3 separate regions of the Homo sapiens genome follow, and all the other regions are reported to be linked to region 2. The links are microRNA targets in miRTarBase. Many come from high-throughput screens and were not tested one by one. Region 2 holds a microRNA gene; each other region holds the end of a gene's coding sequence.
The links. Region 2 holds the annotated microRNA hsa-miR-197-5p (CGGGUAGAGAGGGCAGUGGGAGG, at 1,501-1,523, shown strand). A microRNA usually pairs through its seed, bases 2 to 8, with sites in the 3' UTR of a target mRNA and lowers its output. Matches are read on the target gene's strand: a 7mer-m8 pairs with bases 2 to 8, a 7mer-A1 pairs with bases 2 to 7 and ends in A, and an 8mer does both.

Region 1: miRTarBase lists AHCYL2 as a target of hsa-miR-197-5p. Seed matches in the 3' UTR shown: 7mer-m8 at 2,580-2,586 and 7mer-m8 at 1,895-1,901.
Region 3: miRTarBase lists NFIC as a target of hsa-miR-197-5p. Seed matches in the 3' UTR shown: 8mer at 1,849-1,856.

The regions. Positions count from the first base shown.
Region 1 is chr7:129,426,175-129,431,249 of GRCh38, reverse strand. AHCYL2 (adenosylhomocysteinase like 2) reads right to left here. Exons shown (of 17, transcript NM_015328.4): 16 at 4,687-4,807; 17 at 1,039-4,211. The coding sequence ends at 4,205. Among named protein-coding and RNA genes, the nearest start is that of STRIP2, 5.7 kb to the left of the region's middle.
Region 2 is chr1:109,597,401-109,602,475 of GRCh38, forward strand. MIR197 (microRNA 197) reads left to right here and starts at 1,493; the gene lies at 1,493-1,567. GNAI3 (G protein subunit alpha i3) reads left to right here. Exons shown (of 9, transcript NM_006496.4): 9 at 1-2,795.
Region 3 is chr19:3,462,287-3,467,361 of GRCh38, reverse strand. It overlaps NFIC (nuclear factor I C), which reads right to left. Exons shown (of 11, transcript NM_001245002.2): 11 at 1-4,610. The coding sequence ends at 4,593. Among named protein-coding and RNA genes, the nearest start is that of SMIM24, 16 kb to the left of the region's middle. RefSeq lists enhancers at 1,169-1,669, 1,670-2,170, 3,752-4,287, 4,288-4,823 and a silencer at 3,100-3,300.

The DNA of each region.
Region 1 (5,075 bases), not on the chromosome of region 2:
TAAGCAGTATCCATTTCACAGGCAAGAAAATTGAGGCTGTGAGTGGTTATGTAATTTGACTAAGTTACATAACTTGTAAATGGCAGAGCTGGGATTCAAACCCAAGCTAGCCTGCTTTAAAGTTCAAGTTTTTTTGCACAATATTGTGAGGTGGAGAAACTTGTGCAGCAGTGGATAGCTTGGGCTTACCCTATGATTCTGAAATAAAGACCCAGGCACCCAAGGTTCCATCCTTCACAAATGAGGAGTCAAGCCCTACTGCAGGGGAGCAAATCCTTTGAGCTGACCGGCTTCATTGCTAGCTGCTGCATTCTCCTCCTCTTAACTGGAATGGCACTAATTTTGAGGATTACTGACTGCCCAGACGATTCTAGCCCTGTGTCCCTTAATCTAAATAATCAGAAGCCAAAGTGGCAGAAGATTCTGCTATGAAAAGAAAACATCTTGCATACAGGATGCAGAACTAGTTTAGGTAGTCAACTAAAGAAGGTGGCTATCAGAAAGCTACCCAAAGATGGTTACCCTACTGGCAGTTGAGAAAGAATAGGCAATTGGATTATCCTTTGGTTAAATCAGGCAACTTGATTTAGAGACAAATCTCTGCCTGATGCACTTCTTTCTTCCCTTTGGCTGGATATAATCAGGTCCTAGTTATCAAGGTCCTTTGGTCCCAAACTGGGGGATGCTGATTTCCTGCATTTTTCAACTAAAAGGGAGTCAGGGACCTAGAACTATGGTTTAGTTTCTCTGAGTTAAGCCTACAGTCCTCGACTCCCCAGGGTGGTGGTTCTGAGAAGACAGGTTCTTTACACACACAGCCAGGATGCGCGTGTATGCTGGCTGGTAGGAGGGGAACATGATATTTATTAACTAAGGTCAAACATGCCTATTGGTAACATTTTCACATCCTAAGGTCAAACATGCCCATTGGTAACATTTTCACATCCTTGCCCTACAGCAGGATCTCTAGTTTGTTGCCCAGAGATCTCTCTCATCTCTGAATTTCTAGTTCACAGAAACAAGAAATACCCTTAAGAGTCCATGTTAAGAATATTTTATTTGTTTTTTGAGATTACATAGTCATTATTGCTGATCTAATACAATCACTTAGACATAAAGATTTCCAAGAACTTCTCAGAAATGGTGATCTTTAGAAGTGTTATTCCTTTCAGTAAGATGACAGAACTAGATGATTACGTATATAGATATATAGATATATATATATATATGTATATATAGAGTTTAGAACCTGTCCACATATAATTTGCTGGTGTTGCCTATTTTCCTTCCGTAATTTTCCTTTATTGAAAAAGCTTAATGCAACAATGCATTTTGATTCCTTTTTAAAAACCACGGCAAAGTTAATTTTGAGAAAACCACAGGAGCAGCAATATCAGATCTGTTTAGAGAAAAGCGAAGCAGCATAAAAGCTTTGCAGGAGTATGTGGCCATGGGGAGCCGTGCTCATATGGGCAAGTAGGATAGGGAGGGAGGAGAGCAGAGGGAAGGTAGAGTAGATACATTTTTTTTCTTTGTTTAAATGAAAAAAAGAAAACTGAATATCTCCATTAAGAAGGCAAAAAAGTGCCAGGCACGGTAGCACACACCTGTGGTTCCAGCTACTCAGGAAGCTGAGGCAGGAGGATTGCTTGAGCCCAGGAGTTTGAGACCAGCCTGGGCAACATAGTGAAACCCTGTCTCTAAGGGTGAAAAGAAAAGAAAGAAAGAAGGCAAAATATTAGCACAGATTCATTGTAGAGAAAATGTTATGTATCCTCACAGACTGGAGCCACATACAAAGAGATAAGTAGCCTTCTTTCCCATGCTTCCAGATAACCAGGATGCATCTAAGGTAAGAGGTTGGAGGAAAGAAGACACATTGCTCTGATTCCAAGGGTAGAGGGAATAATGACCAGATTTCAACCCTAAGATAGAACCCAAATACTTGGGAGGCTTGTGGTTCTTTCTTCTTAATGGTTGATAACACAGTGTCCCTACAGAGAGGTCATCTGAAACTCAGAGGCAAATAACTCATCATGGGCAGCAACACTGGCAACCTAACTTAGAAGCCCCGTGTGGCCCCTTTTTTATTTGGAGTGGGTCTCTTCACTACAGCAAGGCAGAATGTACTCTTTAAGTACCAGCACATAGTAAGCTCCAGAGAGCAAGGCTTTGCTGAGAAACAGCAGGTTATGATTTTTGGTCTAAGAATACAATAGGCTAGAGACCATCTATCTGCCAAATGGAATCTGCTCTGGATATAAGATAAGGTACAAAGATCTGAATCCCTTGCTAAAGGGAACCAATTAATACAAAAATCAGGACTAGGTAGGCAAAAGGAAGAACTGAATGGCTTAGTGGAATTTTTAGCATTTATGATCTTCCTTACAAAAAAAGAATATAACCAGTACTTGCTGAGACATATGGCCTCTGAAGAACTGTAGTCTATGGGCTGAGCCTGTATACTATTAAATGAGGCAAACAGTCATTTACCAAAGTTCCACTTCCCTACTTCCGAAAGTAAGGTCACTTTCAGACTAGCTTTGAGAGTATATGTGAAGACCAGGAGAAGTTGGAGAGGGTAGAGGTAGAAGAAGAGAATCAGGATGGGAAGGTTTTGGTGATCATGCGTGGTCTGGTGTTATCTTGAGTCACCTTGGTCTTGAGACTTTGAGGCAGACCAGCATAGGAAAAAAGTGGGAAACAAACAAACCTGAGAGTGTTAAAAAGGATCGGTAAGGGGAAGAGGCTTATTTAATTCAAGTTTCCTAGGGCCAGTCCAGACTAACTCTTAGAACCAATCTGGTCCTAATGAAATGCCTGAGACCAACAGATCAGTCTCCAAAAGGAATCCAATTTTTGGGTGGGACATAAAATGTCACGCTGCCCACACCACATTACTAATTCTTTTTGTAGCACTGGAGTTACTCAAGAAACTGACTCTGAAATACAGAATCATCAAATGGAAGAGGTTAAATCATAAAAGATATGCCAGCAGAGAAGTCCACAGATCAGACTGCAGATCTCGGTTTCATCCATGGCAATGGCCAAAGGAATGAATGTCTGACGAGGTTCAAACTAGTCAAATTAGCTTTGATAATCTGGATACAGTTTACAATTTCATCTCTGTATCCCTCAGCCAGTCAAACTGCAATGGCCTTCCTGGGAAACAAATAAATATACTCTGCTTTGTTAGGGTATCAAGCTGTGAGTCTGAAAGACCTGTCCCATTTCCAAAGCCTATCCCCCTAAGTCCCTGGAAAAGTATGCCTTTCCCTACTCAGTTTCAGACGTAGCTTTAGGCAATAGCAGGAAGTTTCAGGAAGCAGTGTTTCACAACAAGCTCTCCTTTTCTGAGATAGTGCCAATCTGGAGGGGCTTCCTTGGAAACTATCCAATCAAATGACAAGGAAGTAAAACTATGGGTCCCAGTGGAGCTGGCCCCACTTCCTGAGCAGACGTTGGCTGGATTAGAAAGACAGCAGAACAAATGTCTGACAAATACCAAAACTGTGGAGGAAATAATGGAGGCACATCCCTCTTGCAACCAGGAAGTGTTAAAATGGACATAAATATTCAAGGAGAAGAAAGGAGTCCTGGGTAAGAAAGGAGACCCCTGGTAGGCACAGCACAGCTGAGTTCTTGATGTAGCTTGGCAAAGCCATAAATAACACTCCTTCCTTATTAGCCTTTATATAAAGAAGGCAGTGATAGTGATGGTCAAGATTGGGAACCCAATCTTGTGTGAAACACTGGCCATGTTAATTCCAAACGGCCTCACCCGGGGAAGGGCCAAGCTGAGAAAAGCAGGTGCTGAAAATTTATTCCAGAAAACTCCAGGGAATAGGGAGTATGGAATCCCTGGACTAACTCGTGAGCCTGGACAAGAGGAAAAACGGCCACTGCTGAGGATTCAGTCAATGGGGAATGATGCAAATGATGCACTGGGAGCAGTAACCCCATTTCTTTCCTTCCTCAGCCCATCCTCTGTGGCTTTCATGGCCCTCAGGGCAGTAACCACACTCTGGGCCAACACTACAGGCACAGGATTCTTGATTTTAATAAATAAATAACCTAACACACAGGGTGAGCACGGCAGGCAGCTTTGATTGGAGAAGCAGCTTGCTGAATTCTTTCTTGTATAGTAGTGGAGAAAAGGCTTGGAGTTCTATTCCTTAAAAATTCTGGTTTGAGTTACAGGAACTTAATACCTGGAGGGAAAAAGAAAGATGAGACTGTGATGTTATCAGCTAATGGGGATGCTGGGACATGAAGAGCCTGCCTAAAGGTGTAACAGGGAGGCAGAGACTTTTCTGGAGTGTACAGTGACAGGAAATAACTGTGTTTCCTTTTCACATCATTGAAAAAGGCCAATATTTCTCCATAAAGAGATAAAAATCATAGCAACAAGATGAAATGGGGAAAGGAATTGAGGAAGGGGAACTTTATTTAATGAGGCAAATAGCCACTTACCCAAACTCCACCTCTCTATCTCCAAAAGGCAAATTCAGGAAGGGGAATACTATTTAAGGCCTTGAAGAGTCTTTTGAAGGTGGCAGTGAGGGGAAGTGGGTTCATTTTTCTGAGTTCATGTAAGCATATGTGGTTGGGGATGCAAAGACCAATTCCAGTGCAGGAAGCTCATCACTGCCCAGGTGTCCCTGATTTCTGGGGAGCCCAAGGCACCTGTAGTAATTAGGCTTGAAGGGCCCATTCTTGTTGAGTCCCAGATACTTGGCCTGTTCATCTGTCAGCTCTGTCAAGTGGGCATCAAAGGTAGGCAGGTGTAGGCTGGCCACATACTCATCTGGAACAGACCACAGAAGCCCTGGTATAAGCATTCATGCCTTTTATCTGATGGCTATTGTCCCCAAGCTAGGCCTTAAAAAGTTCAAAGACACCTTCTAATTCCTGGAGCTGAATGAAAAATGTTCAACCTTCGCTCACTGGTCCTCAATTCTAAGGAATAGCTGCCTTCAGCTTCAAGCCCAGTGCTTTCCAAAGCCTTAATAATTCATCCTTACTAACTCAGCTTTGAACCCTGCCTTCCAGAAAAGTGCAGGAGAGATGAAAGA
Region 2 (5,075 bases):
GCAGTGAGCCGAGATCGCACCACTGAATTCCAGCCTGGGCGACAGAGTGAGTCTGTTTTTTTTTTGTTTTTTTTTAAAGTCAACACAAATATTGAAAATAAGCAACTTCAGTGCACAAATAAGCTCAAAATCACTAGTGAGTGATCTATTTTTTGCCAATAAGAAGTACCATTTGTACATGACTTAAAGTGCCTTCCACCAAGAAAATTATTGAAAACTGTTGGGTCACATAACATTCCTACACTTTGGATACAGAGTATTTAGTTTTATACAAAATTAAGACAACAAGAAACCTAGGATGTCCAAACATTCATTTCATTTATTTTACTGCATTTATTTATGCAGTGAAAATTGAAAGATACACCAAATTAAAGATAAAACCCTGTGACAGATAACAGTATATGTAATAACATGAATATTTATTTACACTTGGTAGAGAAAGCAAAGCTAGCTAGCTCTAAACTAGAATGAAAGTCGTTTTGAAATGGGTACGGGGGTATATAAGGGGAATGATTGAGTCACATGTAAAAGCCTTTGTATGCCCAGTGCTAGTGTTTTCCTGAAATCTAGTGAGAATCACAAGGTACCAGAAATAATCAAATAATAAATATTAATACACTGCTGGGATAGAAGTATCTCAGTGTACCAGCATTCACTAAGCTATAAAATCTGTGACAGCAGGAATATTAAATTATGAACAACCTGGTTTATCTGTCTCCTCTTATCTTTTACCTCTCCCTACGCCCAAAATTCTCCTTAGGTTATCCAGACATTTTTACTAAGATGCTTATTTATATGTAAGAGAGATTTCCAGTAGATACAACAAAACACAAGAAATCACCTGTTCTGTTTATTCTTGCTCATGTAGGATAAAGGTCCTGAGACCTCTCAGAATCTTACGAGGTTGGAGAGTTGTTTGGAATGCTGGGTTCTGGTCTTGTCTCTGCTTCCAACCAGCTATGGAATCTTGTGTATTCTTTCAGTCTTAAATCACTCATCTGTTATCTAAAGATGGACTAAATTATTCCTTCCTGCTGTGATATTCTGTGGTTCTCATCAGATAGAAATAACATATTTGAAAATGCTTTGTAAATGTTATGATACTCAGGATTATACTGCACAGAAAAAAAAAAATCCTAAGGCAGCACCAACAAAGGTATTCAACGTAGTGGGTGGTCTTTTACAGCATTACTTTGCCCATATTCATTTTGAAGACCTGAAATGAAGTTGAACTATAAATTGCTCTAAAATTCGTGAAGCAGGGTGAAAAGGTCTTTGCTTTGTTTTACATTTAAATCCAGCTGTCTATTTTCTGCTTATACTAGTGCTTTTTCATGGCAAAAAGACAGAAAAGTTCCCTTCTGCAGTCTCCAGTGTCTTCTGACCTCACAGAAATGTTTTCATGCTTTTACCTAGCAGGACCACCAGAGGCTCTGTCACACTTGCAGTCCCTGGCCCAACACCGAAATCCTTCTGGAATCTGTGCTCTGGGGGCTGTGCCGGGTAGAGAGGGCAGTGGGAGGTAAGAGCTCTTCACCCTTCACCACCTTCTCCACCCAGCATGGCCGGCACACTTTGGTCTACGGCACATCTCCAAGTATAGAGTGGGTTTTGAATGCTGTTATGTCTCACCGTGGGGATGGGAAGGAATACTCTGTTTTGGACTATTTGGAGGTACATGTGAGTGGATTTTATTACCAGAGTAGGAACTGTTTCAAGTTAATGTGTCTTTTATGTTGCTTTTAAGACAACTTTTGTGCCGCTTTTATCCATTCTTCCTTTTATCCACAGAAATACAAATTTCTAATTATAGTATATTTTTTCTATTTTTAAAATTGTGATAAAGCATATATAACAAAATTTGCCATCTTAAGTGTACAGTTCAGTGGCATTAAGTACATTCACACTGTTGCACAGCCATCACCACCATCCATTTCCAGAACTTGTTTTCATCTTCCTGAACTGAAACTCTGTACCTGTTAAACAGTAACTCCCCATGCCCCACCTTCTTTCAGCCCCTGGTAACCAGCATTTTCCTTTGTCTCTATGAATTTGACTATTTTAGATACCTCATATAAGTGGAATCATAGTATTTGTCCTTTTGTGTCAATCATATTGTATTTTTGTCTAAAAAAGGAAAACTATCAGATTTATGTGAAATGTAACGTAATTTACATTTGATTTACTGTTAGTAATGTCTCTTTAATCATGCTATGCTAGGGAAGTACATTATGGTCTCTCCCTCTAAGAATATGAAGAGGAAATTTTACCTTCAACAAACAAGCAAACTTAGTTATATTTTTGTGATTTTATGCTGTTTTCATATTCTATTTTGAGATCTATTTGTCTTAGCTTGGAGGTGGTTTTGTTAAATGTCCACGATTTAGAGACGGCATAATGAAAAAATGACCAAGAATTTGGTTGGGAATGGGAGGAGCTTAGAAGAACAAGAAATTGGCTTTGATTTTATAGTGTATGGTGCTCTGTTGGTAGCTGGACATCATCACAGGCTTTGGATTGAGAAGACCTGTTCTGGAGTTCTAGTTCTGCTACTGCCTAGCGTTGTGATCTTGATGAAGATACTCTTCCTTCCTGGGCTTCAGTTTTTGATCTATAAATTGCTAGTGATGGGGCTGGACTATTTTTAAGTTTGTTCTAACTTTAGCAGTCTTAAGAATTAAGGTTGCATGCCAGAAAATAGGGTTAAATATTTGTTTCTGATCTGGTTACAAAAAAAAAAAAAACTTGATGGCTTAAAGTAAATAAAAATTCAACAGTACGGTGTAAATTTAAAATGAGGCAAAAGAAAGATAATGACTTAATTTTTATTTTAATCTTTCTTATAGCTGTTTTATATAAGAACTTTTCATGAATACAATCAAAATGTCCATGAGATAAAAATAAGCTAATTGTGCAGGAAAAGTACAAATGCACTTTTTCTGCAGCTCTAACATGTAAGGTTTGGGAACAATCGTTGGGCCTGACAAACAGTTGAGCTAGGGTAAGGGTGAATGCCTTTTCTGGAAGCCTATCAAGAGCATCGAGGTGAAGTCCTCTTACCTTTAATCATGGGAGAGCCCATTCTGGACCAAGGGTTTGAGAAAATTATTCTGACTGTGTTCTAAGGTAATAGGTGAATGGGTGCTCAAGGGCCCCTGTTGCATTTCATGTAGACTTGCCAGAAGAGTTTTAGCTTGAAAACATCATAAGATGAATATAGGCAGATCCCAAACTCAGTAAAAAAACAGCTATAGAATGTTGCTCTATCCTCCAAGATGAACACTTTACATAATGTTTGTACAAGGTGGCTTGTGTGAGTTTGTTGATAAACCAGTTAAAAGTTGGGATATCCCCCAGCTATCCCAAAAGAAGAGGACTAAATACAACCATGTTTTAGTCTGCTAGAGACTTGTGTTCTGACCTAAGACCTGTCAGAAGACCTGTCCCACTGGCTCTGCTTCTGTACTAGTACTATAAGGCAGGTTCTGTGTGAACATTAATAACCAAGGATCCTGAGTTAGACTTATAGTTTGGTCAATAACCAATTTATACCTAGATTGAAAGACCAAGGAAAAGTTAATAAAATAATCAACAATCTGGTACTATTTGAGGGAAAGTAGGGCTATCCTATTTGGAGATGGAATAAATGGGATAAATTATGTTTGGGGCCTGAATAGACAAGATCATAGCTTGTATAGTAAGGGTTCTTAACCTGGGGCTTCAGAGCTCCAGCGAGTCTACAGAGAGACTATTTGATATGCTAGTTTTCTTTGTATTTCTCTGAATTTAATTTTACGTGTTTAAAAATATGATGATGAAAAGAGGCACATGGTTTCATCAGATTGCCGGAAGGATCCATGATACAAAACAGATTCAGAACTCCTGTATGTTGAGTTAAAGTGAACAGATTAGTAATGGTTGGAGCATGATATTCAGAGTAGTTCCTGAACAGCTCTTGAATATGAGAAGTCTTTCCCAGGTTTTTTGTTTTGTTTTGTTTTGTTTTGAGATGGAATCTCACTGTCGCCCAGGCTGGAAGTGCAGTGGCATGATCTTGGCTCACTGCAAACGCCTCCTGGGTTCAGGTGATTCTCCTGCCTCAGCCTCCTGAATAGCTGGGATTACAGGCAGGCACCACAACGCCTGGCTAATTTTTGTATTTTTAGTAGAGACGGGGTTTTGCCCTGTTAGCCAGGCTGGTCTCAAACCCCTGACCTCAGGTGATCCACCTGCCTTGGCCTCCCAAAGTGCTAGGATTACAGGTGTGAGCCACCGTGCCCAGCCAGGTTTGTTCTTTGGCTTGAGTTTTTTCATCAGCAGTAGCCAGAGTAGTTTCTCGGATAATTCTCCCAAGCTGCTTTCTTTTTAGGGAATCAGAAAGACTATTAAATGAGTTTAACTTTTATAGCTACAAATTTATTCTTAAGTGTATTTCAAGCTCATATGGCTCTCTAGTATTAATATTGCTAGTAGCAGCCTAAGTGTGAGTGGGTGTTTCTGGCAAGGAGCAATTTCCATTTTAATTGACATTTTCTTCTATGTACTAAATCTTGGATGCCAAGAGCTTTCCTCACTGGTAGTTGTAAATGCTAAATCTATATACTTAACTTCATCCCCTTCTGTCAAGATAAATGCAAACTTCATTTCCCCTCAAAGGAGTTCAAAGGAAAACTTCTTGGCGTGTTTGGGGAGATGTTTTCATCCACCATCACATGGACCCAACTGCAAAGATTTTCAGTGCCTAAAACAAGCTCACCTGTCTTGGTTCTTCTGAAACACGTAGCAGTTGAAAAGTTTAGAATTGTTCACTTGTTCCAAATTCTATGATAGAGAGGCGGCAGCAATACATTCATTAATACTCTAAATGAGAGTATTTGATGTCCTCTAAGTTTATTCAGGAAGTATCTTATGTAGCTAAGAAACATTTGTAGAGATAAAGGTCTGTTTGATAGCCTGGGGGCAGAGGGATAATGTTTGCTTAATAAAGATGATCGTTTTGGGATGTGCCTTAGAAACTAACAAACTCGCATCTCCTATCCAGTGATCCAGATCTCTGAGCTAAGGCACATAGAGGT
Region 3 (5,075 bases), not on the chromosome of region 2:
TCTTCCTACTCCTCCATGCCCCATCTCCACCCGGGTCATTGTCAGGTGCCCCCACGGAATGGGGACAATTTGCATATATTTGGGAGGCCTCCCTATTCTTTCCCACAGCATGGGCAGACCCCAGAATGAGACTGGGGTGGGGGGGGGGGCCTGGCATAGGTGTGGTGTCCATAGCAGGGGTGGGTGATGGGGGCTTCCAGAGGGGGGTGGAACAAGATTTGAGAAGATGTCAGTTTCATACATGTTAAAAAAACAAAAACAAAAAACCAACACTCCCTCCTCCACCCAGGGATGACGGCACCCCCTTTTGTGAACCCAAACTGCAGAGATGGGCACGGAATCCTGCTTCCTGGTGTTTTTGTCTTACTCTGTCTGCAGCAAGGCGCCTGGGAATTTTGCCCTACAGGGACCCTGTAGCTTTTCCAAGAAACAGGGAGGCGGGGAGAACTAAACCATCCACAACATGCTGCCTGGTATGGGCTTTTGCCTGCTGTACTCAGCCAAGGTGCCAAGTGAGCCAAGGAGGCAAGCTCGGGGTGAGAAGGGTGGCGTCCAGCCCAGGACTCTGGGCCCCCGGGTGTGGGCTGTGCAGGGACGCGATGGTCCCAATAGTGATGGGGCCACCCACTCCCTTTGCCTCCGGTTGCTCCTAGTTCCTTGGCAAGACAGATTTGCTCAGGAGTGGGGCAGAAAAAAAAAAAAAGCTAGAAATCAGCTACATGAATGCTGTGCACAGCCAGCCCGGGCTCTCTGGCCAATGCATATTACTTAAGGGCAATGTCGTGGCCAGCTGTGGTGGTCTGGGCTCTCCCTCTGTATCGCCTGGGGAGGCTGCTGAGGTGACTTTTTGGAAGAAAACACGGGATGAGTGTATGATGGTGGCTGTGGAGACCACCCAAAATCCCGGGGTTGGGGGCAATAGTGAATGAATGGGACCATCTGCGTGGGTCCCTACACGAGATGCTTGGAGGGGCTGGAGGTGGTGAGGGCTGCAGGAATGGCCTAAGGTTGGAGAATCCCAGCCCTGGGTCCTCCCTGCCTGGCTGCCCCACTAACCATCTGGCTATTGTCTTAGCTTTGGTCAAGTAAAAAGCAAAGGAAGCTGGAGTTAAAAACAAAAAGAAAAGAAAAAAAAAAAGAACAAAAGAAAATAAAATCAAGGACAAGACAACAGCATGCTCAGCCACCGGACCACAGCCTGTGACTCGGTGCCACCTGGCTGTCCCTGTGCCCTGCCGGACCCTCGGCTGGGCCTCCAATGGCTGAGCCAGGCCCATGGGTACAGACAGACAGACAGATATTGCATATATCAGGTTTTGTTTTTGTTTCATACAGGATACCCTTCATATTCACAGCTGGAAGACAGAGACAGGGGATGGGGGACAAAGGAGAAGGTGGGAGAGAATGCCACCTGGGGTGGTCTCTGGATAGGGGAAAAGAGGTCCTTTGGCAAGAAGGGTGGGGATGCACGGGGCAGGGGAGAGGGGGTGCCTCTGAGGTGGGTGTGGAACAGCATTTGACCCTGAGCCAGGGGTATGCCAGCCTGCATGAAAAGTGGGGAGCGGGGAGTCTGGCTGCGGGTGGAGTGGCCACCCCATGGTTGGAGGACAGCCTGCAGTGGGTCGGTGAATGGTGTCTGGGGGCCGGCCCGTGGCCTAGGGACCAATCAGAGAGGAGAGCCCTTTCCCAGGGCCAAGATGGGCCCCGGAGGTCTGTCCTCTGGGCAAGGGATTCAGAAATGACCCCTCTGGGTACCCAAGAGCAGGGTTGGGGGTGGTAGAGGCTGAGCACCAGGGGGCACCCCTGAATACAGCAGGAGGGGAGACAGGACCAAGGACAGCCAGGGGCTGGGTAGACCTGGGGGCAATTGTTTTCAGTGGCTTGATTTTTAGCGTGGTTTTTCTTCCTTTTTTTTTTTTTTTTTTTTTTTTAGATTCTCACTTTCTTATTTTTTATTTTATTTTTTTTACAAATAGAAATACATCCCTTTTCAATTTTTATTTTTTATTTCATGTCACTGTTTTGTCTTTTTTTTTTTAAACTACACGAGCAGAACATGCAGCTATGTGTGTGCGCTGATATTGTTTAAAGGTAATACTTATTCTCGGAAGGCAAGGCACATCTTGTGGTAGAAAATTTCGTGCAAATTAGGAAACATGGAATTTTTTTAAAGGTTTTTCTTGTATCTTTTTTTTTTTTTTTTTTTTTTTAAAGAGGAAGTGGGGGGTGGAGGGGGCGAGGAACAGGGAGATAGAGCCAGGGATAGTCTGCCATGCATGTGTGTCAGCGCCGCCAGCTGACCTCGGGAGCCAGGTCGCAGGAGTCCTTGACTAAGCACCATGCAAAGTTAGGTAAAGAGTTGGTTCTCGTCGCGCCCTGACCCCTCTGGAGCCCGGCTGGCCTCCCTCCCCCACTCCACGACCCCCACCCTGGCTGAGAAGCTTCCGGACACCCCAATGGCACAACCCGACCACCCCCTCCCCCGCCCGCCCTCCCGGAGAGCGGCCCACGCTTTGATCCCCAAGGGCCACCGGGGGAGCGGGCCCCGAGGACAGACGGACGGAGGGACCAAGGGCTCGAGGCCAGAGGATGGCGAACCTCTCTTGGGGGTGATGGGGGAGGGTCCTGGGTCTTTCTCTTTAGGAGCGAGCGGGTTCGCCAAGCTCCTGAGGCTAGTTTGGGAGGAGAGTCTGGTTTTCGGGGGCAGGGGGGTGAGGCTAGGAGCAGGTGAGACCCGGAGACCTGCCCTGGCTTTGGCCTGGGTCGGGGGAGGGGGCAGTGGTGGGGGGAGTTTTTCCCTAGGCATGGAGGTCAGTTGGGGCTGGGCTGGGTGGGCCGGGGAGGGGTCCTTGTGTTTGAGCTCGGTGGCCCTAAAACACCTAACACCCCCTCCCAGGCCTCCCCTAAAGATGGCGATCCTGGGGTGGGGGTGGAGGTGTGGATAGGGCCAGGGAGCCGGGGTGGGGGGGCACCTGGCGTCCCCAGCTTAGTGTTTTTGGAGCGGCTCAACGGAAAAACGCTTAGCAGATGGGAGGCCCCCTACACGGCTGCGGGGGGCCCCAAGGTGCGACGCCGAACCCCCCGAAAACCCTCCCCGTTCCGAGCGGGGACCGCTGGCGTCGGCCTCCTCTCTCCTCTGGGGGCCCAGCCGTGATGCACGTCCCGCAGCTGGGCCCCGCGTCGGGGTAGGCGATGAAAGTGCAAACGGCGGTCCCCCTTCGCTGGGAGGCACCAGGGAGGGGGGTCGCTCCAGAATGTAAGGCACTGGCAGCGGAGGCGTGGGGGGCGCACCGGCTTCCCCAGAGCCCACCCCCGCGCCCCGGCAGGGCAGGACGCTTGCGAAGTGACGCCCAGCTCTGCCCCTCGGGCCACGCAGGGGCCCCATCTCTCTAGCTCTGGGGGGGCACGGCGATGAGGGTTGACTGGAGGGGCTGGTGGAGAGGCTGGAGGGGAGGGGGAGGAGGCCCGCGGCCATTCCGTGTCCCAGCTGGACAAAGGGGGGGGCGGGTGGTGGTAATCAGGCACTTAAACCACTCGCTCTCACCTCCCACCGCCAGGGGCTGACGGGGGCGCTCCAGACGGGCACCCCCAACTCGGGGAGCTCTGGGTGTCCGGGCTCCCCCATCCCCTTCCTCGGAAAGTGCATTTCTTACAGTGTGTGCAATGTGGGTCCCTCCCTTTGGGGGTGTGAGCCGGGCGAGGTGGGGGGGCCTCCTATGCCGGGGGTGGGGGGTGGAGGGGCCGGGGCCAATTGCATAGAGACTTCTCCTCCCAAACGGGCGGGCGCGAGGGCTGAAAGAGTCCCCAGCGAGACAGCGAGTCGGCCGGCGCTTTGGGAGGGGCTTGTGGGGAGGCCCCGCGGCAGGCAGGGCCCCCTCGAGGGGCAGCAGGTGCCTGGGCCTCACTTCCTCCCCTGGCCAGGGCTCGCAAGCGCCACGCACCCCCGCGACACCACTCGCCTGCCCCACCCTGCCCGCCTCTGCGGTCTCCGCTGCCCGGCCGGGGTCCGCTGTGTCTCCCTTTCCCCCCAGTGGCTGCGTCCTCGGTGGGGGCTGAGGGGCCGGTCCGTGTCCGGCAGAGGCGCGGGGGCCCGGGGAGAGGTGGCCTTGCTGGGTGTCGCGCCTGTCGGCCCTGGGCACAGGCTCCAGGCTGTGCTCACCTGGTCTCCGGACAGAGCCAGGGCCTCCGGGGCGCGGGCGGGCGGCCGGCGTCTGTCCTTCCCGAGCAGCAGGCGGAGAGGAGATGAATAACTTAGGAAGACGCCCTGTCCCGGGTCTCCCGTGGGGGTGGCGGGGCCTGGCCCTCCAGTCCTGCGGCCTTGGCGTCCCGAGAGTTGGAAACGTTGCGTCTTTACCTTTTGTCTTCTTGCTTGGGTGGGTTTTTATTTCTTCTTCTTCTTCTTCTGCCTTTGTTTTTTCTTTTCCTCCTGAGTGTGTGCGTCTATGTGTTTTGTCTTTTTGGCCGGGCTGGGAGTCGGCAGGGGTGTTCTTGTTCACTCTAATTTTCCACCGAAAACGTGGGCCGGGGGCCGGCTGTGCTGCCCCCTGGGATTCCTGGGACGATGGAGAAGGGGCGAGGGAAGAAGACCTTTGCTATCCCAGATACCAGGACTGAGTGGCCCAGTGGCGACAGAAAGAGGGAGAGAGAAAAAGGGAGAGAAGTCGAGGGGTCAGACTCTGCTGCAGACATGGTTTACCTCTTCCCACGCTCACCCCCCACCTCCTGCAACCCTGTGACCTCAGTTTCCCCATCCCAGGCTCTAACAACCTGCTGGGTGACCCATGGCAAGTGACTTTGTCTCTGAGGGAGGCTTCCAGACACAGTACAGGATGCCCAGTGAAACTGGAGTTCTGGTTAACACAGAATTCTTTTAGTATAAGTCTAGCCCACGCAACATTGGGGATATACTTACACACCACACACAAAAGATCCATTTATCTGGAACTGTATTTTATATTTTATTTATTATTTTATTTTTTGAGATGGAGTTTCGCTCTTGTTGCCCAGGCTGGAGTGCAATGGCGTGATATTGGCTCACTACAACCTCTGCCTCCTGGGTTCAAGCAATTCTCCTA